7 linked regions of the Homo sapiens genome follow. The protein of the gene in region 4 purifies or fractionates together with the protein of the main gene of each other region. This does not show direct contact. Each region holds a gene or a part of one and is shown on either strand. Other genes may lie near its edges. The genes, in order: STAT5B, FGL1, TTC1, SEC24A, GTF2H2C, UBE2B and TUBB6.

The links.
Region 1: the proteins of SEC24A (region 4) and STAT5B fractionate together in Homo sapiens (co-fractionation; one large-scale study listed by BioGRID). This does not show direct contact.
Region 2: the proteins of SEC24A (region 4) and FGL1 purify together in Homo sapiens (co-immunoprecipitation; one large-scale study listed by IntAct). This does not show direct contact.
Region 3: the proteins of SEC24A (region 4) and TTC1 fractionate together in Homo sapiens (co-fractionation; one large-scale study listed by BioGRID). This does not show direct contact.
Region 5: the proteins of SEC24A (region 4) and GTF2H2C fractionate together in Homo sapiens (co-fractionation; one large-scale study listed by BioGRID). This does not show direct contact.
Region 6: the proteins of SEC24A (region 4) and UBE2B fractionate together in Homo sapiens (co-fractionation; one large-scale study listed by BioGRID). This does not show direct contact.
Region 7: the proteins of SEC24A (region 4) and TUBB6 fractionate together in Homo sapiens (co-fractionation; one large-scale study listed by BioGRID). This does not show direct contact.

Annotation. Positions count from the first base shown.
Region 1 is NC_000017.11:42,213,892-42,217,391, forward strand, and holds part of STAT5B (signal transducer and activator of transcription 5B), read right to left. Parts: coding exon 3,486-3,500; intron 3,392-3,485; coding exon 3,269-3,391; intron 2,216-3,268; coding exon 2,123-2,215; intron 712-2,122; coding exon of another isoform or gene 691-711; exon of another isoform or gene 641-690; intron 1-640. UniProt on the Homo sapiens protein: Carries out a dual function: signal transduction and activation of transcription. Mediates cellular responses to the cytokine KITLG/SCF and other growth factors. Binds to the GAS element and activates PRL-induced transcription.
Region 2 is NC_000008.11:17,892,725-17,896,680, forward strand, and holds the start of FGL1 (fibrinogen-like protein 1 precursor), read right to left. Parts: upstream 2,801-3,956; 5' UTR 2,723-2,800; intron 2,681-2,722; exon of another isoform or gene 2,501-2,680; intron 1-2,500. UniProt on the Homo sapiens protein: Immune suppressive molecule that inhibits antigen-specific T-cell activation by acting as a major ligand of LAG3. Responsible for LAG3 T-cell inhibitory function. Binds LAG3 independently from MHC class II (MHC-II).
Region 3 is NC_000005.10:160,061,139-160,063,590, reverse strand, and holds part of TTC1 (tetratricopeptide repeat protein 1), read right to left. Parts: intron 50-2,452; exon of another isoform or gene 1-49.
Region 4 is NC_000005.10:134,662,285-134,665,784, forward strand, and holds part of SEC24A (protein transport protein Sec24A), read left to right. Parts: intron 1-3,500. UniProt on the Homo sapiens protein: Component of the coat protein complex II (COPII) which promotes the formation of transport vesicles from the endoplasmic reticulum (ER).
Region 5 is NC_000005.10:69,587,691-69,591,190, reverse strand, and holds part of GTF2H2C (general transcription factor IIH subunit 2-like protein), read right to left. Parts: intron 864-3,500; coding exon 824-863; intron 1-823. UniProt on the Homo sapiens protein: Component of the core-TFIIH basal transcription factor involved in nucleotide excision repair (NER) of DNA and, when complexed to CAK, in RNA transcription by RNA polymerase II.
Region 6 is NC_000005.10:134,381,569-134,385,068, reverse strand, and holds part of UBE2B (ubiquitin-conjugating enzyme E2 B), read right to left. Parts: intron 1-3,500. UniProt on the Homo sapiens protein: E2 ubiquitin-conjugating enzyme that accepts ubiquitin from the ubiquitin-activating enzyme E1 and transfers it to a E3 ubiquitin-protein ligase. In vitro catalyzes 'Lys-11'-, as well as 'Lys-48'- and 'Lys-63'-linked polyubiquitination.
Region 7 is NC_000018.10:12,318,241-12,321,740, reverse strand, and holds part of TUBB6 (tubulin beta-6 chain), read right to left. Parts: intron 1,206-3,500; exon of another isoform or gene 1,079-1,205; coding exon of another isoform or gene 997-1,078; intron 1-996. UniProt on the Homo sapiens protein: Tubulin is the major constituent of microtubules, a cylinder consisting of laterally associated linear protofilaments composed of alpha- and beta-tubulin heterodimers.

The sequences.
Region 1 (3,500 bases), on a different chromosome or scaffold from region 4:
AGCACTTTGGGAGGCCGAGGTGGGTGGATCACTTGAGGTCAAGAATTCGAGACCAGCCTGGCCAACATGGTGAGACCTGGTCTCTACTAAAAATATAAAAAATTAATTGGGCGTGGTGGCATGCACCTGTAATCCCAGCTTCTCGGGAGGCTGAGGCAGGAGAATCGCTTGAATCCAGAAGGCAGAAGCTGCAGTGAGCCGAGATAATGCCACTGTACTCCAGCCTGGGTGACAGAGCAAGACTCTGTCTCAAAAAAATTAAAAAAAAAAAAATAGCATAAGATGTAAGTAGTCATTAACATAGCTGAGAATGTTAAAAATGCTTATTTATTTAGACAAGATACTTGAGTAATTACATGGTGCAGGAGATGCCAAAGGTACACAGAGAGTGAGATCTGTGGACAGGCAGGGAAGGAAACAAGAGATGTGGCAATCTTATCTAGGAGGCTTATCAGGACAAGAGGCAGACAGACAGTTTCAAAAAGGAGCTTCTGATTCAGAGTTTGTAAGTGAAGTATGGTAAATCTCTTAAAAATCTCACCTTTGCAGTAAAATACTTTTTCTCTAAAGAGGAGTGTTGGGAAACGTTAAGCCTCTCCACGTGAGCCAGAAGGTTCCATTTCACCTTCTTTACACACAACTGGAAGGTAACCCATGCTGTCCATGCTGTTTTGTAAATGAGCTGTTGAACTAACAGTCAAATCCTATATTCTAACAGCCACAAAACAAAACATAATCAAGGTTTGTTGGATATACTTAGAGAAGGACATGCTCTTATGTCCCAAATGATAACCCTTTTATCATGCTTTTATGGACTAATCTCTATTGGAAATATGTAACAAATGACCTTTGCCTACTAAAAAAATTTTTTTCTTTGAGACAGGGTGTCGCTTTGTCACCCAGGCTGGAGTACAGTGGCACAATCTTGGCTCACTGCAGCCTGGACCTCCTGGGCTCAGGCGATCCTCCCGCCTCAGCCCCCCCCAAGTAGCTGGGACTAGAGGCTGGTGTACCATGCCTGGCTAATTTTTTGGTATTTTTTGTAGAGACAGGATTTTGCTATGCTGCCTAGGCTAGTCTGGAGCTCAAGGGATCTGCCTGCCTTGGCCTCCTGGAGTGCTGGGATTATAGGCATGAGCCACCGCACCCAGCCTATGAGATCTTTAAAATGCTCATCGAGCAGCATGCTAGTGGGATTCAGATAGCGTTTGGGTGCATAAATCCACCAAATTATATCTTCCTTGAGGCAAAGTATCTCATTCTTCATGAGACCTAGAATGAATCACAGAAACTAAAATTTGGAAAAGACATTTAACAGCATCTTCATTTATTGAAAGGAAGAGGGTATGAAGCAACTTCTATGCTAAAGTAAGCCTCTGGAGAGATCTAACCTCTGGAGTGAACCTAGGAGTCCCAAATCCCATTCATAGTTTCACCCAAGGATTCAAAATAATATTTACTGAGTACTGACTGTGTGGCAAGCATTTTCTATGTTATCTAATTTAATCTTCCTAACAATGCTGTAGAGCAAGAGTATCCCTGTGCTGCAGACACTTGCTGGAAACTCAGGCTCAGAGAGGTAAAGTGAACTGCCCATGTGGTCATGGAGTGAGGAAATGGTGGAGTCTCAGTTCAAACCCTGGCCCGATGTCAAGCCCATGTTCTTTCCACTTTCCACATTCTTTCTATTCTGCCTCCCACTAAAGAAAACAGCGTCTTTTTTCCTATGCTTTTTTTTTATTATTGAGATGGAGTCTCACTCTGTCACCCAGGCTGGAGTGCAGTGGTGCGATCTCGGCTCACTGCAACCTCTGCCGCTCGGGTTCAAGTGATTGTCGTGCCTCAGCCTCCCAAGTAGCTGGGACTACAGGCATGTGCCACCACACCCAGCTAATTTTTCGGTATTTTTTAATAGAAACAGGATTTTGCTATGTTGGCCAGGCTGGTCTCGAACTCCTGACCTCAGGTGATCCAACCGCCTCGGCCTCCCAAAGTGCTGGGATTACAAGTGTGAGTCACTGCACCCGGCCTTTTCCTATGCTTTTTAAAAGGATAATACATAAATGAGATTCATGACACCGGCATTGATTTTGGGACCCACATGCCCGAGGAATACACTCACAGGCTCTGCAAAAGCATTGTCCCAGAGAACAGTGGCCGTCGCATTGTTGTCCTGGCTGCCATGAACGATCACCACCACTGGCAGGGACAGGGTCTAAAAAGACACAAGAGAAGGCTGAGCGCCCACGAGCCTCAAGTTCTTCTCCTTCTCTCTTTTTTTTTTTTCTTATTATAACAACACTTTTATTTTCCAAGTTTCAGTTAATGTTCCTCTCAGACACAGAATCTAAATGGCCCCAGGAATAATATGACTTTTCATACTGGCACAATCTTAGAAATTTTAAATATTTTACAAGCAATGTTGCTTAGATATTTCTGAAGGATAAAGTTTCTCAAAGTTACATGGAGAACAGGAGAGAGAAAAGACTATTGGAGATATTTCTGGGAAGAAAATACAAATAACAAATTTAAAACTTACCACAACCTTTACTCAAATTCATCCCAAGTAATGTTTCTCATATCCATTTTGTAGTCTACCTCTCCAGCTAGTTCAGTTCATTATTGTTTGTTCATGTTTTATTTTTTATTTTTTAATTTGTTGTTGTTGTTGAGACGGGGTCTCACAACCAGCTCCAGGCTGGTCTGGAACTCCTGAACTCAAGCAATCCTCCTGCCTTGGCCTCCCAAAGTGTTAGGATTACAGATGTGAGCCACTGCACTGGGCCTTGCTTGTTCATGTCTTTTTTTTTTTTTTTTGAGACAGGGTCTCACTCTTTCACCCAGGCTGGAGTGCAGTGGCACAATCTCGGTTCATTACAACCTCAGCCTCCCAGGTTCAAGTGATTCTCCTGAGTAGCTGGGATTATAGGCACGTGCCACCACGCCTGGCTAATTTTTGTACTTTTTAGTAGAGATGGGGTTTCACTGTGTTAGCCAGGCTGGTCTTGAACTCTTGACCTCAAGTGACCTGACTGCCTCAACCTACCAAAGTGCTGGGATTACAAGCATGAGCCACTGTGCTTGGCCTCTGTTCATGTCTTAAGAGAACCTAAGTGAAACAGTTCTCAGGGTGAGGTCAGTCCATTTTCAGTTTACCAACAGTCAAAAAGAAGAAGATGCTATGTGATAAAAAAAAAATATTTTGTAACATAAAGTACACCACACACACACACGCACACGCACACGCAGAGCTGAGGGAAGGCTTTACCTTGACTTGAAAAACCAGCTCATTTCCACCAACACTGAACTGGGATTCAAACAGGATTGTAAATTTTTCTTCTGTCACCGACTCTGCCCCACGACGGTCTGACCTCTTAATTCGTTTCAGGGACTACAAAGAAGAAACATAAGATGAAACGTAAGATATAAGTTGTTCCCCTCAAAGACCAGGGAAAAATTCATTCTTCCTCTTCTTCCACCCTCACCATATTCCTGAAGTG
Region 2 (3,956 bases), on a different chromosome or scaffold from region 4:
ATTATTTTAATCCGCTCCCAGATAATATTCAGGAGTCAAAAATTAAAAATCATGAAATGTCTGTATCTTCTAGACTTTGCTTTAATGTTATTTGTTGAAAAATTTTTTTATTTGATTAAAGTTTTCTTATGCATTTGTGGGATCAAGTACTTTATTTCAGAAGTGAATAAATTAGCTTAAAAAGTTAGAGCTTAGCCAGGCGTGGTGGCTCATGCCTGTAATCCCAGCACGTTGAGAGGCTGAGGCAGGCAGATCACTTGGGTCAGGAGTTTGAGACCAGCATGGCCAACATGGCAAAACCCCGTCCCTACTAAAAATACAAAGAAATTAGCCAGGTGTGGTGGCACACACCTTTTATCCCAGCTACTGTGTTGGTTGAGGCATGAGAATTGCTTGAACCTGGGAGACAGAGGTTGCAGTGAGCCAAGATCACACCACTGCACTCCAGCCTGGGTGACAGAGTGAGACTCCATCTCAAAAAACAAACAAACAAACAACAACAACAAAAAACACCTAGAGCTTAAAAAAGAAATTTTCTCATTCCAATGTTTGATTCTGGCTCTTGCATAAATGGAAGTATGTTTTGAAAATGCTCTGAATGATGCACCTATATATCATATAATTTTACCTACGCACACTGTATATATACGTATATGTATGAACATAACATTATTATACATAATATGTATATATTATAGATTATATTATATATACATTATATAAGGTATATAAATATTGCTTAGCATTAGATTTAGTAAAAAATAAAGGGCTAATGAAATTTTTTTGACAGGCCTCTGTCTCTTGATGTCCTGAAATGTTTATCTCACTACCATTAAGATAATCCAATAATCAAAAAGGCACCCCCTAGTCTGGTAGCATATAAACAATAAAGCATTTCAAAATGTAATTATTTACATTTAGAAAGTCATTATATTACTTTGATTAGCTTTAGAATAATTCCTGAGAATATCTTAAGTTCTCTAAAATTTTCCATTTTCCTCCTTTGCAATTCTAACCAACATTCTCTGTAATATTGAAGAAATGCTAAGCATTAAGAAACTTGCTTTGAAATTCTGGTCTCCATCATTCATTATAGTAAACCATTATTTCTTCTGCACATCTGGCTTACAGTAAAGTTGTATCAAATTATTCTGTTCATTTATTGCACAATTAGTTGTATTTCTTTTATAATATTTTTGCCTTAGGCAGTATCAAAACTTTTAATTATTATAAAATTAAAATTGTTATCAAATGGCTGTTCTTTGGTGGACTATATTATTTTACATAATTTTAATGCTATAAATTCTAATTCCTTCCCCACTATATTTAAAAAAAATTTAATTAATTACGCTGCATTAAATTTAAAGATGAAGACATTAAATTTGTAAATGAAAAGTTCTAAAAATAATATATAATTTTTAAAAACAATTACAAAACAGAAGTACATTAGTAGCATGCAAACATTTCAAAACTGGTATGTTTTAAGCAAGCATTGTAAAAGGATATATAAAAGAAATAAAAAGGAAGGAAAAAGTTATTGAACGAAGTATGTTTAATAAGTTAGCATTCACAAACGCTATAGGACTATAATGCTTAGGACTATAACCTAAGTCAGTGAGTTAAAAATGTACCCATAAACACAAGCTTAGAGACTCCTTTTAAGCTATTTCCTTCCAAATTTTTTCCTCTTTCTGAAAATGGAATATAACTGTGCTTTTGTATTTTTCTTAAGAATCCATACTCACTGAAAGCCTTACAAAGCTAAATATAGTTGATCCCTCAAGAAATGCAATAAAGAAAAATGTTTCTGAAGTTTTTTGACTTCTGAAGTGAAAATTGTCATATAGTCCATTTTATTTTTAATTTTTTATACTGAAACTGTAAACCTATCATTTACGTCAAACTCCCATGCAATTCATTCAAAATGTAAAGGAAATTATACAAAGTGAGACTCCATCTCAAAAAACCAACAAACAAACGACAACAACAAAAAACGCCTAGAGCTTAAAAAAGAAATTTTCTTATTCCAATGTTTGATTCTGGCTCTTGCATAAATGGAAGTATGTTTTGAAAATGCTCTGGGTGATGCACCTATATATCATATAATTTTACCTGCGCACACTGTATATATATGTATATGTATGTACGTAACATTATTATACATAATTATGTATATATTATAGATTATATATACATTATATAAGGTATATAAATATTGCTTAGCATTAGATTTAGTAAAAAATAAAGGGCTAATGAAATTTTTTTGACAGGCCTCTGTCTCTTGATGTCCTGAAATGTTCATCTCATTACCATTAAGATAATCCAATAATCAAAAAGGCACCCCCTAGTCTGGTAGCATATAAACAATAAAGCATTTCAAAATGTAATTATACATATTTAGAAAGTCATTATATTACTTTGATTAGCTTTAGAATAATTCCTGAGAATATCTTAAGTTCTCTAAAATTTTCCATTTTCCTCATTTGTAATTCTAACATACCTTATTTGTATATCTGTATATTTGTATATCTGTATATCTGTAACAAAAGATACATAATTCTAAATCTCTTCTCCAAGTAGCAGAAGCAGACTCCTTGCTAGTCAACCTGACTTCTTGCAAAAGCTAATGGTTGTTACCTGAGTTTTGGTTACTATCATACCTGTGAAATAAATTAGCATTATTACAAGCATGTCAAAAATGCAGAGACATTAAATAACTTGCCTAAAGTCAGAAGTGAGTCAGAGACCCAGCTCAGGTTCCATCCAGACACTCTGCTTCCCAGGATCCTGTAACTGCATTGGGAATTTGTAATTATTTCTCCATTATTTGATTAGAAATAGGGACAATGTTGATTCTGGCTTCAATCCAGAAACAAACATGTGGACACAGGTTTAACTGAAAGAAAGCTAAAAGAGAAGATTCAAGGACAAATCCCAATACTCTGATATTTTTCTTTTTTCCCCACTTGTATGACTTTTTGTGAAAGATCCAATAATATATCTTTATAAAGATATATATATTTTACAACTTATTATTATGTTCATTCAGAGAATTTTTGTACTGTAACTTCAATAATGTTCCATTGAAGATTAAGTAAAAACGAAGTCCAGCTGAAACTTTGCTTTGTATTAAGGGTAATAACATTTTACCCACAAAAATATGAATTAATATGTCATCTCAACTAAAATATGGAGATAAGCCAAATTTTTCCTAGTTATAAAAAACAAGGCAGGTTAATAATTGCCAAGGTGAAATGGTCAGTTTATTTGCTCTCTAAGAAAAACAAAAGTATTCCCTGAGGTGCAAAATTGTGAAATTTAACTGGAAGCATCGATTATACTCTGGACAAGTTGTTCCTTTTGTTTTAAAATCCTCTAGAAGATTTTCTAATGTGTAATAGGCACTTGTTAGCTCCATTAATCGTATTGTGTAACAGTTTCTTACTGGAAATCTGGGTTCATCATTTCTTCTTTCCTTCTGATGTAACTCAAGCAGTTGTTTGCCATTTGTCCTGTGGTCCCTATTTATTCACTCAGATTCCAGTAAAATACCAAAGTTTTGTTTTCTTTCTGTTCTTTGTTATCTACTGGACTTGAGCACTGACGATGTTTGGTCTTCCCATTAAACATCTTCCTGTCCTTCACGTGGACATTTTGAAGATTATTAAGGGAAAGGTAATCCTGTTGATTTACTGGAAAAAAGAAGGAAAAAAAAAGCCAGTTAGACTGAAGTGATTTGCACACACACAGAAGAAGTGGAAATTATACATTCATAATTGTAGAGAATTCAAGCTGCTAATGTTAAATTTCAAAAGCAAAAATATGGGATTATTCGGCTAATTCAATAATGATCTCTGTGGTAAAATGACATATTTTGAAATACAAACTTATCTTTCCTTCTTGTATGCCTTTAGCTTTGTCCCCATTCAAGCAATAATTTAGCCTTGTGTTCATTT
Region 3 (2,452 bases), about 25 Mb from region 4:
TTAGCAGCTTTTCTCACTCTGAGGCCTCCCATCTTAGAGTAAAGCCCAGGTAAAGAACTTAAAGGTGCATGGCCTTGGCTGGGTGCAGTGGCTCACACCTGTAATCCCAGCACTTTGGGAGGCTGAGGCAGGAGGATCATGTGAGCCTAGGAGTTTGAGACCAGCCTGGGCAACATAGGGAGACCCTGTATCTACAAAAATTTAAAAATTAGCTAGGTGTGGTGGCACACACCTGTTGTCACAGCTATGCAGAGGCTGAGTTAGGAGGATTGCTTGAGCCCAAGGAGTTCAGGGCTGCAGTGAGCCATGATCATACCATTGCACTCCAGCCTGGGTAACAGAGCAAAAAAAACGCATGGCCTTTACATTTTACAGGCCTCCCTAATAACTCATGGTGAGAACTTTTAGTCTCAGGCTTAAGAACTAGCCCAAGGAAGCTCACTATGTCCAGAGAAAGGCCAACCCATCTTTGGATAAAACAGTAAATTGAGAAAGCTCCCAGAACCTGGGATGGCTGTTCTCCAGGCAGGCCTCCCAAACCTAAACCTGGGACACACACGTTCTGTGCTGCTGCTTGTGTCAGGAAATCACTGGCATAAACCCTGGGTGCCTGCACAAGGCAGCGGCACAGCCTCGGGCACATGGGCGTAGAGGGAGGGGCTCACAACAAGCAAGAGAAAGACAGGGCAGCCTCAGGGTGACCTGAGTTAGCAACACCAACCAGGAACGCTGGCAGTTTGTTCTGGGGTTGGAAAAAGAGGACAGGAAGGGGGAAAAAAAAAACCATCAAAAGCAGCCCAAGAAAATGTTGGTACTGGGAAATCCTTGGCTCTTGTGATATGGAGTGAGTGAAGTGAGAATGAGTATCAAGAGCCACTCACATCAGACTCCTGAGGAGGGGCAGCTCCATGGTGGAGAAGCCTACTCTGGATGGTCCACTGAGCCCAGGGCCATTACATGGATGGAGGGATCACTGCAAGCCCATCTCCAGTGCCAGAAAAACAATTTAAAGTACAAACTGGAAATTTTACTTGGCATCTATCATGTAAGCCACTGGGATGTAAAGAATAAAAGTAGCTTCTATGCACAATGCTCAGTCTAGTGGGGAGGCAGACCCAAAAGACGGAGGTGTGCCCAGAGGTGCTTTCTGACCTTGCAGTGGCACGAAGAGGCTACATGCCACAGTGCTCCGGGGGATGGGAATAGGTCCAGGGTGGTGGCATGTCACCGTGCTCCAGAGATGGCAGCTTCCTCAGGCAGCAATGGCTTGGCTTTAGGCTGGTCTGCACTAAAGGAGGTTTCCCTCTAGTGCAGAAAGACCATTCCAAGCTAAGACTGCAAATATTCAAACTGCCGACGAGAGGAAGAATTCTCTTTCCCAGGCCCTCGTTTTGCCTAACTGGCTAAAGGGCCTGTGTGCCACAAGCCACCTTTGAACTTTTAGCTTGGTTGATTCTATGGTGTGGCAGTCATGAAGATGTATTTCTCCAAATGCAGGGGACAGAGTGGCTGCACTCTAAAATCCATCAGCACATTCATGCAGAGGCCACCCTTCCCACCTGCTGCTTCCAGCCAATGCCTGAGCATGGGAGGGACTCGTCTGAGGGGCAGCACTGGCTCCCCAATGGCTTTGCTGAAACTTTCTCAGCACCACACTCCAGTGGAAAACTTCCCCGCTCCCCCGGCCTTTCCTCCTCCACAGGGGTCTGCCAACTCTGCCAACAGCCTCCAGCTCCCAGCCCCATTTTCCCTTGCAGGTGTTTCCCCCAGTAAATCTCTTGTACTTTTAATCCTATCTTGGCATCTGTTTTTTGGATGACCCAAACTAACACATAGATAATTATTCTTTTTCCTTCAATTCCAGTATCTCTGCCTTTATAACATTTCACATTAGTTTCACCGACCATCACTTAAGGGGGAAAAAAAAAAAGAAAATGCGAAATTCTGCTTTCTAAATGAGATTACATATATATAATACCTGGCAGGTAGTAGACACATAATAAAAGGCACACAAATAAATAGTCTCTGCGTTAGAGAAGACCTAAGGTCACCTGACATAGATTAATTCAACCAACATGTACTAATTACATGTGTGTGGCACCTTGCTATGTGTGGTAGAGATGCAAAGATACATGACATGGTCTATACACCAAAACAAGCTTAGAATTTGACAAGGAAGAAAAGACATACACACAAAACCAAATTCATATGTAGCTGAGTTATAAAATGCTACGAGAGTCAGGAAGGGGAAGATTCCTTTGGCTGGGGCAGGAAGACAGGAAAGGGGTGGAGGAAAGAAGAGATTTGGTCTATCTTTGTCTAAGAGTTTACACTTGAACCAGGCACCAAAGGCCATAGGACTGCAACCATATGAGACAGAGGTGCTGTCCGTGCAAGCCCAAACAGCGTGAGCCAATGCACAGAGATAGGCAGGCGAGCTGTGTGTCCAATG
Region 4 (3,500 bases):
GCTGGGACTACAGGTGCCCGCCACCACGCCCGGCTAATTTTTTGTATTTTTAGTAGAGACGGGGTTTCACCGTGTTAGCCAGGATGGTCTCGATCTCCTGACCTCGTGATCCGCCCGCCTTGACCTCCCAAAGTGCTGTGATTACAGGTGTGAGCCAATATTTCTTTGAAAAGCATTTAAAATTCTGTATTGGGATCTGCAGGTTGATACTTCTCAGCAGACAGCCTCAAGTTTATGAAATAGTGTAGGCTTCCAAGTGAAATAGTAATATCAATAGTTACCTTTTTAACCTTATGTATGTTTATATGGCATATACTCCATCAGGCTTGTAAATTGTTAATGGCTGAAACTTTATTTTTCCAAGCCTTTGATCAGACATTGGCCCTGGTGAATGCATTTTGGCCTTGTAAAGATTAAAGCTGCTTCTAGAAACTTAAGTTTCTTTGTGGAAATCTTCTGACCTGCAATTAGTAGAGCTAAAATCCTTCATGTTACTTTTGTTCTAATTCATTTGATACCATGAGTGAGCATCAATCACTTGAAATGAATGAATATGGTGGCACACATCAATCACTTGAATGAATGAATGTGTGGTCCCAGCTACTCGGGGGGCTGAGGTGGGAGAATTGCTTGAGCTCTGGCAATTGAGGCTGCAGTGAGCTATGATTGTGCCACTGCGCTCCGGCCTAGGTGACAGAGTGAGACTTGGTCTAAAAAAAAAATTTAAGTGTTAAAAAAAATGTTATCTATATTATTTTCCAGGCTCTATCAAACTTTGATATCATTATCTGTTTTTCTGTTTTGCTTTTTATTTTTTAGAGATAGGCTGTCTCTCTGTTTCCCAAGCTGGAGTGCAGTGGTGCAATCCTAGTGTCATCAAACTGCTGGGCTCAAGCTATCCTCCCGCCTCACCTCCCTGAGTAGGCGTGCCACAGTGCCTGGCTAATCTTTTGTTCTTTATTTTTTTGTATAGACAGGGTCTTACCCTGTCGCCCAGGGTAGAGTAGGGTAACACGATCATAGCTCACTTAACTGCAACATAGCTTGCTGTAACTGCTGACCTCAAGCCATCCTGCTGCCTGGATTTCCTAAAGTTCTGGGATTACAGGTGTGAGCCACCTAGCCAGGCCTGCATTATCTTGTTTAATCTTCGTAACAGTCTCTTACAGATCTAAAGTATAAGACTTGAATAATTTGCCCAAAGCCACAGTAAAATAGTTTGGGAAAACATTTATTTAAAAACTATTTAAGGGCCAGGCGTGGTGGCTCACGCCTATAATCCTAGCACTTTGGGAGTCCAAGGCAGGAGGATCCACTTGAGGCCAGGAGGCCAGGAGTTCACTAGCCTGAGCAAAATAGCAAGACCCCATCTCTATTTTTTTAAATAATTTTATTTAAAAATAAATAAATACTAAGAGTAGGTGTAGCTTCTCTTAAAAAGGTACATTATCAATAATCTGAAATTTCTTTAGCTATAATAGAAACCCTCAGAGCACCTTGTCTCCACTACAGATTTGGTGAGAGAGACATAAATAAGTGCTGAGGCTGGGCATGGTGGCTCACGCCTGTAAGCCCAGCACTTTGGGAGGCTGAGTCGGGTGGATCACCTGAGGGCAGGAGTTCGAGACCAGCCTGGCCTACATGGTGAAAACCTCGTGTCTACTAAAAATACAAAAATTAGCCAAGTATGGTGGCACGTGCCTGTAATCCCAGCTACTCAGGAGGCTGAGGCAGGAGAAGCGCTTGAAGCTGGGAGGCGGAGGTTGCAGTGAGCTGAGATTGCACCACTACCTTCAGTCTGGGCGACAGAGCAAGACTCCATCTCAAAAAAAAAAAGTGCTGAAACTTATGAAAGAAGGGGAAATAAAAACATATAAACTAATAAAATGAACCTAAAAAGTAACCTTCTTTTTTCTCATTTGAACCTTCAAAGAACCTTCAAATTCCTCATTTTTTTTCTTTTTTCCAACTCATAACTGAGAGTTGGTACCTGATAGTCTGGTATCAAAGCTGTGAGTATTTAGGTTATACTAAGTTTTTAGTTCATATATTAAATTTTCCTGAATTTTTTTAATAGGTCACCTTTAAGCATCATTATACTCATTTAGGGGCTGAGAGGGCAGACTCTGAAACTCTAGCTATCAGTGTCGTAAATAAGAATTCTTCAACTTGAAAAAATGTTCATTTTATGAAATATATGATTATCTGTTCAAAAATAGTCTTCTAAAAGCTGTGAAAATCTCTGTAAGTTTACTTTTATTCGTTAAACATTAGGTTGTAGGTTACATCTTTGTGGCCAGATGTATTTTACATTCTTGTTCATGCTGAGTTGGCCATGTACCTTGCCCCTTTGTTCCTTTGACTTGTCTATACTGCCATAGATATGTGTGACCACTTCTTTGATAAGGGAGTTACATGGCAATAATCTTTGTCTTCACTTTTGTCAACAAGGCACTGATAGTCTTGTTAGCAGTTGTAAGATTCAGTAATAGGCAATTTTTCTTTTTCTTTTTTTTTTTTTTTTTTTTTTTTGAGACGGAGCCTTACTCTGTCGCCCAGGCTAGAGTGCAGTGGCGCAATCTCGGCTCACTGCAACCTCCGCCTCCCAGGTTCAAGCAGTTCTTCTGCCTCAGCCTCCCTAGTAGCTGGGATTACAGGCATGCGCCACCACGCCCAGCTAATTTTTTGTATTTTTAGTAGAAACGGGGTTTCACCATATAGGCCAGGCTGGTCCCAAACTCCTGACCTTGTGATCCACCTGTCTCAGCCTCCCAAAGTGCTGGGATTACAGGCGTGAGCCACTGCACCCAGCCTAATAGGCAATTTTTCAACTTGATACTGGAGTATTTAACAGTATTGGTGAAACATTTTGAAAAATTTCAGGCTGAGCGTGGTGGCTCACGACTGTAATTCCAGCACTTTGAGAGGCCGAGGCGGGTGGATTACGAGGTCAGGAGTTTGAGATCAGCCTCCAGCCTGGCCAATATGGTGAAACCCCATCTCTACTAAAAATACAAAAATTAGCCGGGCGTGGTGGCGCGCACTTGTGGACCCAGCTGCTGCCGGAGGCTGAGGCAGGAGAATCGCTTGAACCCAGGAGGCGGAGGTTGCAGTGAGCCGAGATTGCGCCATTGCACTCCAGCCTGGGGGACAAGAGTGAGACTTCGTCTCAGAAAAAAAAAAAAAAAGTGTTCCTTCTGCCTCGGTCTCCCAAAGTCCTGGTATTATAGACATGAACCACTGCTCCTGGCCCCCTATTTTTATTTTTATTTATTTATTTATTTATTTTGAGACAGAGTCTCGCTCTTGTTGCCCAGGCTGGAGTGCAGTGACGAGATCTCAGCTCATTGCAACCTCTGCCTCGCAGGTTCAAGTGATTCTCCTGCCTCAGCTTCCCAAGTAGCTGGGATTACAGGTGCCCACCACCACACCTGGCTAATTTTTTGTATTTTTAGTAGAGATGGGGTTTCACCATGTTGGCAGGCTTGTCTTGAACTCCT
Region 5 (3,500 bases), about 65 Mb from region 4:
AGGCAGAGGTTGCAGTGAGCCAAGATTGCATCACTGCACTACAACCTGGGTGACAGAGCAAGAGTCTGTCTCAGAAAATAAAACCAAAAAACTGTCAAATGATTCAAAAAGTGGTTCCAGTTAAGAGTAAACTACTGATGTCAAAGAGGTATATAAAATTTAATAAAATTACTTTATAAATTGTGACAGTGGAAGAGCAATACTTCTAATTATTATTTTATATAATATATATAGTTTTAAATATGAACATGTAACTAAATTAAAAATTAAAGCTAGACAGTGATCCATATTATTTACATCTATACAAATTTATTTATTAAAGTTGGCCCTCTTCAAAATTTAAAAAAGTATTTTCTCATTGGCATAATGGAAGAATCACCTATTATCTGTGGCCACCTTAAACAATTTCAATGTGTTATCACACAGCTTAAAGTATAATATGAAGAAAATATTTTAAATACTTTCAGACTAAATGCAGTTTAGCTTGAAAGCTAAAGACAAATTACATGTTTTACAAGGGTGTACCAAAGTAGACAAAACAATCAAAGAATTTAAAAAAAGAGGAAAAAAATTAAAAAATTTTTAATAAAAAGTTTTAAAAAGATGAATTACAAAATACTTTATAGCAAAAATTAGAATGCAGAATAACAAAACTACTATTTAAACTATTTTGTTCCTATTTTACCTTCACCTATTGTCATTATCTTTACAAGAAATAAACTGATATGAGCCTGGTCTTTAACAACCTGTTGAAAACTTATAGTACCATTGATTTCAATATTTCTTGTACATTACTTAATATTTAGAAAGCCAAAGAACTTACATGTTGGTCTTTCAATTCCCCCTGACATCCATAACAAAATCTGAAAAAAAAGTTTAACAATGTTTTTTCTTAGAATTTACTCATTAAAATAGTTCAACAAAATCTCACTAACTAGAATCCTTTAATTAATATGTACTTGTCTTTACACATGACTTTCAGGAAAAAGAGTTAAGAATACCAATAGGCCAGGCACAGTGGCTCACGCCTATAATCCCAGCACTTTGGGAGGCCGAGGCGGGTGGATCACCTCAGGTCAGGAGTTCGTGACCAGCCTGGCCAACGTGGCGAAACCCCGTCTCTACTAAAAATACAAAAATTAGCTGGGCGTGATGGCAGGCGCCTATAATCCCAGCTACTCAGGAGGCTGACGCAGGAGAATCGCTTGAACCCAGGACACGGAGGTTGCAGTGAGCCGAGATGGTGTCATTGCACTCCACACTGAGCAACGGGAGCAAAACTCTGACTCACAAAAAAAAAAAAAAAAAAAAAAAAGAATAGCAATAATTTAAAAAAAAATTCCACAGTATATACAAGGTCATCTGACAGCCCAAAATTTAGTTTTTATTTTCATTAAGGTTAACTGTGAGCATGCTTTATTTTTCTTTGTTTTCGAGTCAGGGTCTTGCTTTGTCTCAAAGGCTGGAGTGCTGAGGTGCTATCACAGCTCACTGCAGCCTCAACCTCCTGGGCTCAAGTGATCCTCCTGCCTCAGCCTCCTGAGTAGCTGGGACTACAGGCATGTATCTCCATGCCTGGCTAATTTTTTATTGAGGCAGGGTCTCGCTATATTGCCCAGGCTGGTCTCGAATGCCTGGGCTCAAGCAATCCTCCTATCTTGGCTTCCCAAAGTGTTAGGATTACAGGCATGAGCCACCATGCCCAGCCAGAAGCACTTTCTAACGTTTGTTTGATAGTCACTTATTCTAATAAGTGCTACTTTGTGATTCTTCACAGTTATTGGCTATAAATCTCCAACTATGAAAGAAGAGAATTTAATTATCTTTCAATCATCTTGAACCCAGTAATGCATAAATATTTAACTAGTGTCATTCTCAATTCTTTCTACATAGTGAAGTCTTCCTTTTGGATAGAACAATAATCAATGTTTAGTTTACTATGCCTATAAAAATATTCTCAGCTAAGCCATAAGTTTTCCCCTATTTAAAACATTTTTTTTTTCCTGGAAATACTGTGTTGCTATTCCCAAGGTTAGTTTCCTATATAATTGACACTAATTCAGGCCCAATCTTCTCCGGAATAGTCTAACTGTCCTCTCGATATGTTCAAATACATCAGGAGTTCTGCAGTTTTCATCCCCTTGGTGATCTCTCTCCTGGAGCATCCTGACTGTCTCCAAACTGGACGGTTCCCCATATGTGACACACAGGTATCATTCTGGAATTTCTCCTTACCATCATCCTAGGCCGTTCTTCAGCCTGTTTTGAATTAGATACATATTACTAGATCCCATGTCATTCTCCTTCTCAGTTCCTTTGAATCACCTACCTCTTCCAGACCTTCCCCAGAAAAATCTCTTTTTGAGACCTTACAAGTCTGAAAATGTCTTTATTCTACCTACACTTAACTGATAGTTTGGCTGGGTATCTAAGTTGGTAACAATTTTCACCACAAACTTTGAAGGTGACTGCTCCCTCTCTGCATCCGGTGTTGCTAATGAGAAGCCAAACAATTTTAATTCCAGATCCTTTGTGTGTGACCTAGTTTTTCCTCTCTGGAAATGTTTAGGGTTAATGGTTTATTGTGTATTCTGAAATTTCACAATTATGGGGTCTGCCTTCCTTCAATACGTTAGGCACTTGGCAGTCCCTTTCTTTTATCTTCGTTGCAGAGATGAGGTCTTGCTGTGTGACCCAGGCTGGCCTGGAACTCCTGGCCTCCAGTTATCCCCCAGTCTCAGCCTCCCAAAGTGCAAGGATTAGAGCTATGAGCCACCCTTCCCAGCCAACAGGCCCTTTCAATCTAGAAAGTTCTGTCCTTCAATATAAAATTTCTTTGAACTATGTCTTTGATGATTTTCTATCCTACTTTTTTTCTTTTTTTCTCGTATCATTCTCATATTGGACCTTCTGGATAATTCCACCAGTATTCTTATCTTTACTCTCCTATTTGAACCTCTTTATTTTACTCCTTTTATTGTACTTTCTGGAATATTTCTTCAACTCTATCTTCTATAGTACTGGGTTTTTCATTTTTACTACATTTAACCTCAACCATAAGCAAATAAATACCAAGCTAAAACAATGAGACTTTTTTCTTTTTCTTTTGCCTGTGAGTTTTGGCCAATATAAAAAAGTTTCATAATACCTAATGTTGGCTAAATGTGGGAAAACAATAAATGAAACTTCTTTGAAGAACAACTTTACAATATCTATCAAAATTCACAAAACATGTAAAACTCTTGACTCAGTAATTTTACCTCTAGGAATTTACCATGCATTTATACTTGTACAAATGTTCAAAAATATAGATATAAGCATTATTTGTTAATAGCAAAAAAAGAAAATCTTAAATATCCAACAGGAAGCAATTGATTATATAAACCATAATTATACCTGAAATATGCAACAATTTCAAAAACAACATTGATCTAGATATGGTGATATTGAATGACTTCTAAATGACTTAAGTGTGAAAAGCAAGATGGATACATAATTGT
Region 6 (3,500 bases), 280 kb from region 4:
CATACAGTGGAATATTATTCAACAATAAAAAATGAATCACAGATACTATTATATCACAACATAGATGAGCCTTGAAAACTTTATGCTGGGTGACAGAAGTCAGTCACAAAGGACCACATAGTATAAGATTCCATTTATATGAAATATCCAGAATAGTCAAATCTAGAGGGAAAACACGTTAGGGGTAACACTTACCTAGGACTGAAGCGGGGAGGGTTAAGACAAACAGAGTTGACTGCTAAGATAATAGTTATGGGGCTTTTTGTTGTTTTTAAAGTGGTCATGGTGATGGTTATGATTATGCTAAAAACCATTTGAGTTGTACAATTTAAGTGGGTCAACAGCTTGGTGTGTAAATTATATTTCAATAAATGTTTTTAAAAAAATAAACCAGAAAGTTAAATTATAAAAAAGTACTCAGCAGAATAAAAGGGAAACCATGCTATAAATATGAAGAGATGTGAAAACCAAATACACTGTGGTTTCTTAAAAATTTGCTTAAGTGATAACCCTATATTTATATCCCTTACTCATTCTACAGTCTTTCCCACCTTTATTTAAAGACCCCCTTATCATAATTGGTTTGGTTTGACTCAATAACAAGTCTAAGCAAGATAAAGCTACAGTGGAATAAATGGTAAATGACCTGGGAACTTCCCCAAAAAGAGAAACAGAAAATAAAATTAAACCTGTCTTGGACAAAAAAAAAAGCAAAAAAGGCAGCTAGAAGGAAAAAGCAACTTCACAGAAATGAAGTGCCAAAGGTAGTATCTATTACTGGAAAGTCACCTTGATTCCAGACACAAACGAAACACATCTCTCCTCTGGGTAGGGAGCTCTATAATGTATTCTGCAGTACTAGAGACACGACCAAGAGGACCTCTGAAAATGTTCTTCCTGAAAGTGAGTTGGCTGATGGGGAACGCCACATTTAAATGAGCAAAGGCTGTGAGACTGAAGAGGAGCTTCAAGAATTTGGAGAAGTCTTTCACATGGTAATTTATAATACAGAAATATAAATGTAATAGATGTAAACAGCAAGATGTCAAGGAAGACCAAATTTATTACAAAGGAATTAGCCATCGTTTAGTGAAGAATAGTAACAAACTACTCTATGAAGTGAAAATGAGAACAATTCCACTGAAGGAAAAAAATGGAAAATGACATTAAAAGCTTTAAAAACACACAAGCCTCTGACCCAGTAATCCCCACGTTTAAAAAACTTAGTCTAGTTGTTATGCAGCAATTAAAAAAACAAACAAAAAACTCAATCAAAATAATAATTAGTATCTGAAAAGATTTATTTTGAGGCCGGGCACGGTGGCTCACACCTGTAATCCCAACATTTGGGAGGCCAAGGCAGGCGGATCACCTGAGGTCAGGAGTTCAAAACCAGCCTGGCCAACATGGTGAAACCCCGTCTCTACTAAAAATATAAAAATTAGCTGGATATACAGCTTTGGGAGGCTGAGGCAAGAGAATCACTTGAACCCAACAGGCAGAGGTTGCCGTGAGCCGAGATCATGCCACTGCACTCCAGCCTGGCCGATAGAGCAAGACTCTGTCTCAAAAAAAAAAAAAAAAAAAAAAAAAAAGCTGGGTATGGTGGCACACATCTGCAGTCCCAGCTACTCAGGAGGCTGAGGCAAGAGAATCACTTGAACCCGGGAGGTAATGGTTGCGATGAGTCGAGATCACACGACTGTACTCCAGCCTGTGTGACACAGCAAGTGTTTTTCTCAACAACAAAAAAATTTTTAAGATTTTTAAGAATGTTCAAAGTGCTATTTAAAATTGTAAACAACTGAAAACTATCAACAATTGGACACTGGTTAAAAATATGATAAATCTATGTAACAGAACATTTTGCCATTAAAAATGATGTATCAGAATATTTATTTTTTTGAGATGGAGTCTTGCTCTGTTGCCAGGCTGGAGTGCAGTGGCGCGATCTTGGCTCACTGAAACCTCCGCCTCCCGGGTTCAAGCAATTCTCCCGCCTCAGCCTCCCGAGTAGCTGGGACCACAGGCATGCGCCACCATGCCCAGCTAATTTTTGTATTTTTGGTAGAGATGAGGTTTCACCACGTTGACCAGGATGGTCTTGATCTCTTGACCTCATGATCCACCTGCCTTGGCCTCCCAAAGTGCTAGGATTACAGGCGTGAGCCACTGCACTCAGCCCAGAATATTTATTAAGGAAAATGTTCACAGTATATTAAAAAAACAAAAACAAACAAACCAAAAAAAACACCTTATTTTATATATAACATCCCAATTTTCTTTTTTTTTTTTGAGATAGGGTCTTGCTTTGTCACCCAGGATGGAGAGCGGTGGCACAATCATGGCTTGCTACAGCCTCAACCTCCCAGGCTCCAGCAATTCTCCCACCTCGGCCTCCCTAGTAGCTGGGAATACAGGTACGCACCACTGTGCCCAGCTAATTTTTGTATTTTTTGTAGAGACAGGGTTTCACCATGTTGCCTAAGCTGGTCTTGAACTCCTGGGCTCAAGCAATCCACCCTCCTCAGCCTTCCAAAGTGCTGGAATTAATAGGCATGAACCACTGTGTGTGGTCATTGACTCCAACTTTGTATATGCAAAATTGTACTTTTGAGATAGAATCTTGCTCTGTTGCCCAGGCTAGAGTGCAGTGGCACAGTCATGGCTCACTGCAGCCTTGACCTCCTGGGCTCAAGTGATCCTCTCACCTCAGCCTCCATAAGTAGCTGAGACTACAGGTGTGCGCCACCATGCCTTGATATTTTTTTTGTTTTTTATAGGGATGGGACCTCGCTATGTTGCCCAGGCTGGTCTCTGACTCCTGGTCTCAAGCAACCTTCCCACCTTGGCCTCCCAAGGTGCTGGGATTATAGGTATGAACCACCACGCCTGGCCAAAATTGTATTTTTGAAAAGCTTAATTTTAGCCAACAGATTTTTCTTATTTTTCACAATTCCACAAATAAATAGATAATACTTTTATCTATTTCTTTTAGTAGAGACAGGATCTTACTATGTTACCTAGGCTGGCCTCAAGCCACCCTCCTGCCTTAGCCTCTGGAGTAGCTGGGACTACAGGTGTGCACCACTGTGCCTGGCTTACATATTACCTTTGTTTTTTTGGAGACAGAGTCTTGGTTTGTCACCCAGGCTGAAGTGCAGTGTTGTGAGCTCAGCTCACTGCAACCTCCGTCTCCCAGGTTCAAGTGATTCTCCTGTCTCAGCCTCCTGAGTAGCTGAGATTACAGGTGCCCACCATCATGCCTGACTAATTTTTGTATTTTTAGTAGTGATGGGGTTTCACCATGTTGGCCGGGCTGGTCTCAAACTCCTGACCTCAGGTGATCCGCCCACCTTGGCCTCCCAAAGTGCTGAGTTTATAGGTATGAGCCACCATGCCCGACCATGTATTACTTTTAATTCAGGAGTTATTAAAACAACTTGACCTCAAATTTGGAAGCTTTGTAAGAGTCTAGCTACAGAAACATAGCTAAAGGC
Region 7 (3,500 bases), on a different chromosome or scaffold from region 4:
AACTAATTCAAGTCATAAAAACTTGCATTGCATTATACAGACCTCTCCCCACTTACTCCAACTTGACTTTTGTCTACACACGGCTGGTGGCAACAATTCACAGCCACTGCCAAAGACCAGCCTCTCTGGTTTCACGTGGGCAGGTCCATCCCTGATGCTGCACTCACCCTGGGGGCACTGAACTATGAAGCAGTGAAACCACCAAGGCTGCCTCTGAGAGCTGCCAAGTGCTACATCGGGTAAGCAAGCTGCCTTTCACTTGTCAATCTTTAATTAGTGGACAAGGGGCTCCCATGCAATTTGGGACACGGGCCTGCTCACAATGAGGTCTACTGATGGCACCCCTGGCTTCTGCAGTACATAACAAGTGCAGCCTTACACAGTGGCTCTACTCTTGGGGGGGATGAAGCATTTATCAGTGCTACACACTGTAGGTGTTCAGTGCAAGAAAAAACAAATTCTGTGATTCTTCATTAAGTGTACTGAACTTAATGTTAAAATGTATGTACTGGACTGTTAATAACTCATATCACATATAAAGGATACCCTCCTTCAATATCTAAAGAAGTCCTTAAATCAGTAAGAAAAACAACAGCCATTAGGAAAACAGGCAAAGGCTATAAACATACAGCTCACAGGAAAGGAAATTCCAATAGCTTAGGTACTGGAAATAATGCTAAACCCTTCTCATAAGGGAAACGCAAATTAAAACAAGGAGATTCTATTTTTCTGCTGTGAAACTGACAGAGATCCAAACACCTGAGTTGCACTGCTGAGGGTTTGGGGAAGGCCACTTCCCACGGGAGCTACTGGAGATAGCAAGGGCAGTGGGCTGTAGAACAGCTGAGCTACAGCTATCAAAATTATCCCCCTAGACACAGCAATTACACTTCTGTAAGTTTTTCTAGATAGACCCATACATGTGCAAAATGACATATATACAAATGTTTACTGAGGAACAATTTATAATAATAAAAAGGGGAACAACCCAAATACCTATCAACTGAAGACTGGTTAAATCCACGGCGGTATCTCTGCAGAGGATACTATCAGCCATCAACAGGAATGAGGCAGCCATACTTGTGAAATGGAAAGATCTTCAAAATACGTTGCTGGGGAGCCAGGGAGGAACACTAGGGTACTAAACAGTGTATACAGCTGGCTCCATTGTATGTGTGTAAATATATGCGTCTGCCTGAACATACCTGAAAGGACATTCAAGAATCTTAACACTAGTTCGGGGTAGGAAGGAGATCAACTTTTCACTATATACCCTTTTGTTCCTTTTAAGTCCTAAACCATGAAAATGTTTTACCTAGCTAGCTAGCAAAATGAAAAAAAAAATTACTTTATTAAAACATTTACAATGCAATTAAGAAAGCACAGGTTGTCTTTGAAGGATGGGGTCCTAAGAGAGTTCATTTCTAGCTTTATGACATTTTAACTAAAACATTTATTTTATGATAAGTGAATATTAAAGTATAAAAAAGGAATTTTTTATTATTATTATTTTAGAAATGGGGTCTTCCACTGCTACCCAGGCTGGAGTGCAGTGGTGCAATCATAGCCACTGCAGCCTCCAACTCCTGGGCTCAAGGGATCCTCCTGCCTCAGCCTCCTGAGTAGCTGGGACAATTAAAAAAACATTTTTTTGGCTGGGCACGGTGGCTCACGCTTGTAATCTTAGCACTTTGGGAGGCCGAGGCGGGTGGATCACGAGGTCAGGAGATTGAGACCATCCTCGCTAACATGGTGAAACCCCGTCTCTACCAAAAATATAAAAAAAATTAGCATGGCATGGTGGCGGGCGCCTGTAGTCCCAGCTACTCCGGAGGCTGAGGCAGGAGAATGGCGTGAACCCGGGAGGTGGAGCTTGCAATGAGCTAAGATCGCACCACTGCACTCCACCCTGGGCGACAGAGTGAGACTCCGTCAAAAAAAAGAAAAATTTTGTAGAGAGGGTCCCCTTATGTTGTCCATGTTGGTCTTAAACTTTTGAACTCAAGTGATCATCCTGTCTTGGCCTCCCAAAGTGCTGGGATGGCAGGTGTGAACGCCTGAGCCCAGCTCTTCTTTAATGAAAAATTTTAAAATGTCATCAGTAAGTGGGAAATTACTAAATGATGACATATACAATGGTAGGCACTGTGACTGTCACGGAGGATGTCTGAGATACATTAATGAATTTTTCAAAAGGCTGCAAAATGGTGTGTATAGCAGGATCCCATTTTCCCCAGACAAAATCAGCTCTGTGTGCTCACCTAGGTGCACATGGACACAGAAAAATGTCAGCAGGGCCGGGCGCGGTGGCTCACACCTGTAATCCCAGTACTTTTGGGAGGCCGAGACAGGAGGATCACCTGAGGTCAGGAGTTCGAGACCAGCCTGGCCAATATGGGGAAACCCCATCTCTACTAAAAATACAAAAAATTAGCTGGGTGTGGTGGCAGGTGCCTGTAATCCCAGCTACTCCAGAGGCTGAGGCAGGAGAATTGCTTGAACCCAGGAGGTGGAGGTTGCAGTGAGCCGAGATTGCGCCATTGCACTCCAGCCTGGGCAACAAGAGCGAAACTCCGTCTCAAAAAAAAAAAGAAAAAAAAAAAAAAGGAAAAAGGAAAAATGTCAGCAGGACACAGCACAACTGTCTACACACTCGGTTATCCCCCTAGGGAATAAAACCTCAGGGGCCACCAGTAGAAGGGATGACAGCTTTCCCTTTCTGCACTGTATACACAATCTATGTGTACTGTTTGAAAAAACCATGTACAAGCACTTTGTTTTAACTTTGACATGAAAACATTAAACACTTTTTTTTGTATAAGACCAGCTATGGGAGCTCACACCTGCAATCCTAGCACAGGAGGGTGAAGTGGGAGGACTGCTTGAGCCCAGGAGTTTGAGGCTACAGTGAGCTATGATCACACCACTGCACTCCAGCCTGGGTGACAAGGCGAGACCCCATCTCAAACAAACAAACAAACAAAACCACACATTTAAATATTGAACACTGAAGTTTCCAGAGAGCAGAACTGGCCAGCTGAAACTGACCACAGAGGGCCCTTGCACTTGTCTGCAGCATCAGCCTCCCTAGATCTCCGTCTCAGTCCCACTGAGAAATCAGCTCAGCCTTTCTCTCCTATTGTCTTTGCCCCATTTGGCAGTCCAAAGCCCAGTGTCACTGGCATGGCAGGCCCTATGGCTCTGCAGAGGGGCCGGGCTAGGCAGATGCCTGCTGTGTGCTTGCAGCACACCCCGTGGGCCTGGCCACTTTAGTACTCTCAGGTGGCCGTTTCCTTGTGTTTTTCACAAGCCGTAGACAGCATCTAGTATGTGACTGTTCTCTTACAAACAGGGGATTCTCTTCTTCCTGCCCAGCTGTGTTGCACAGTGAATCCTAGCTGACTGCCTTCTCTTAGTAGGCGAGAAAATGGTCACCGTCCTTCCTAAGCCCCCACCAACTTCTCTCCACCCCTTCCCCACCCAACCTAGCAGGCAGCACC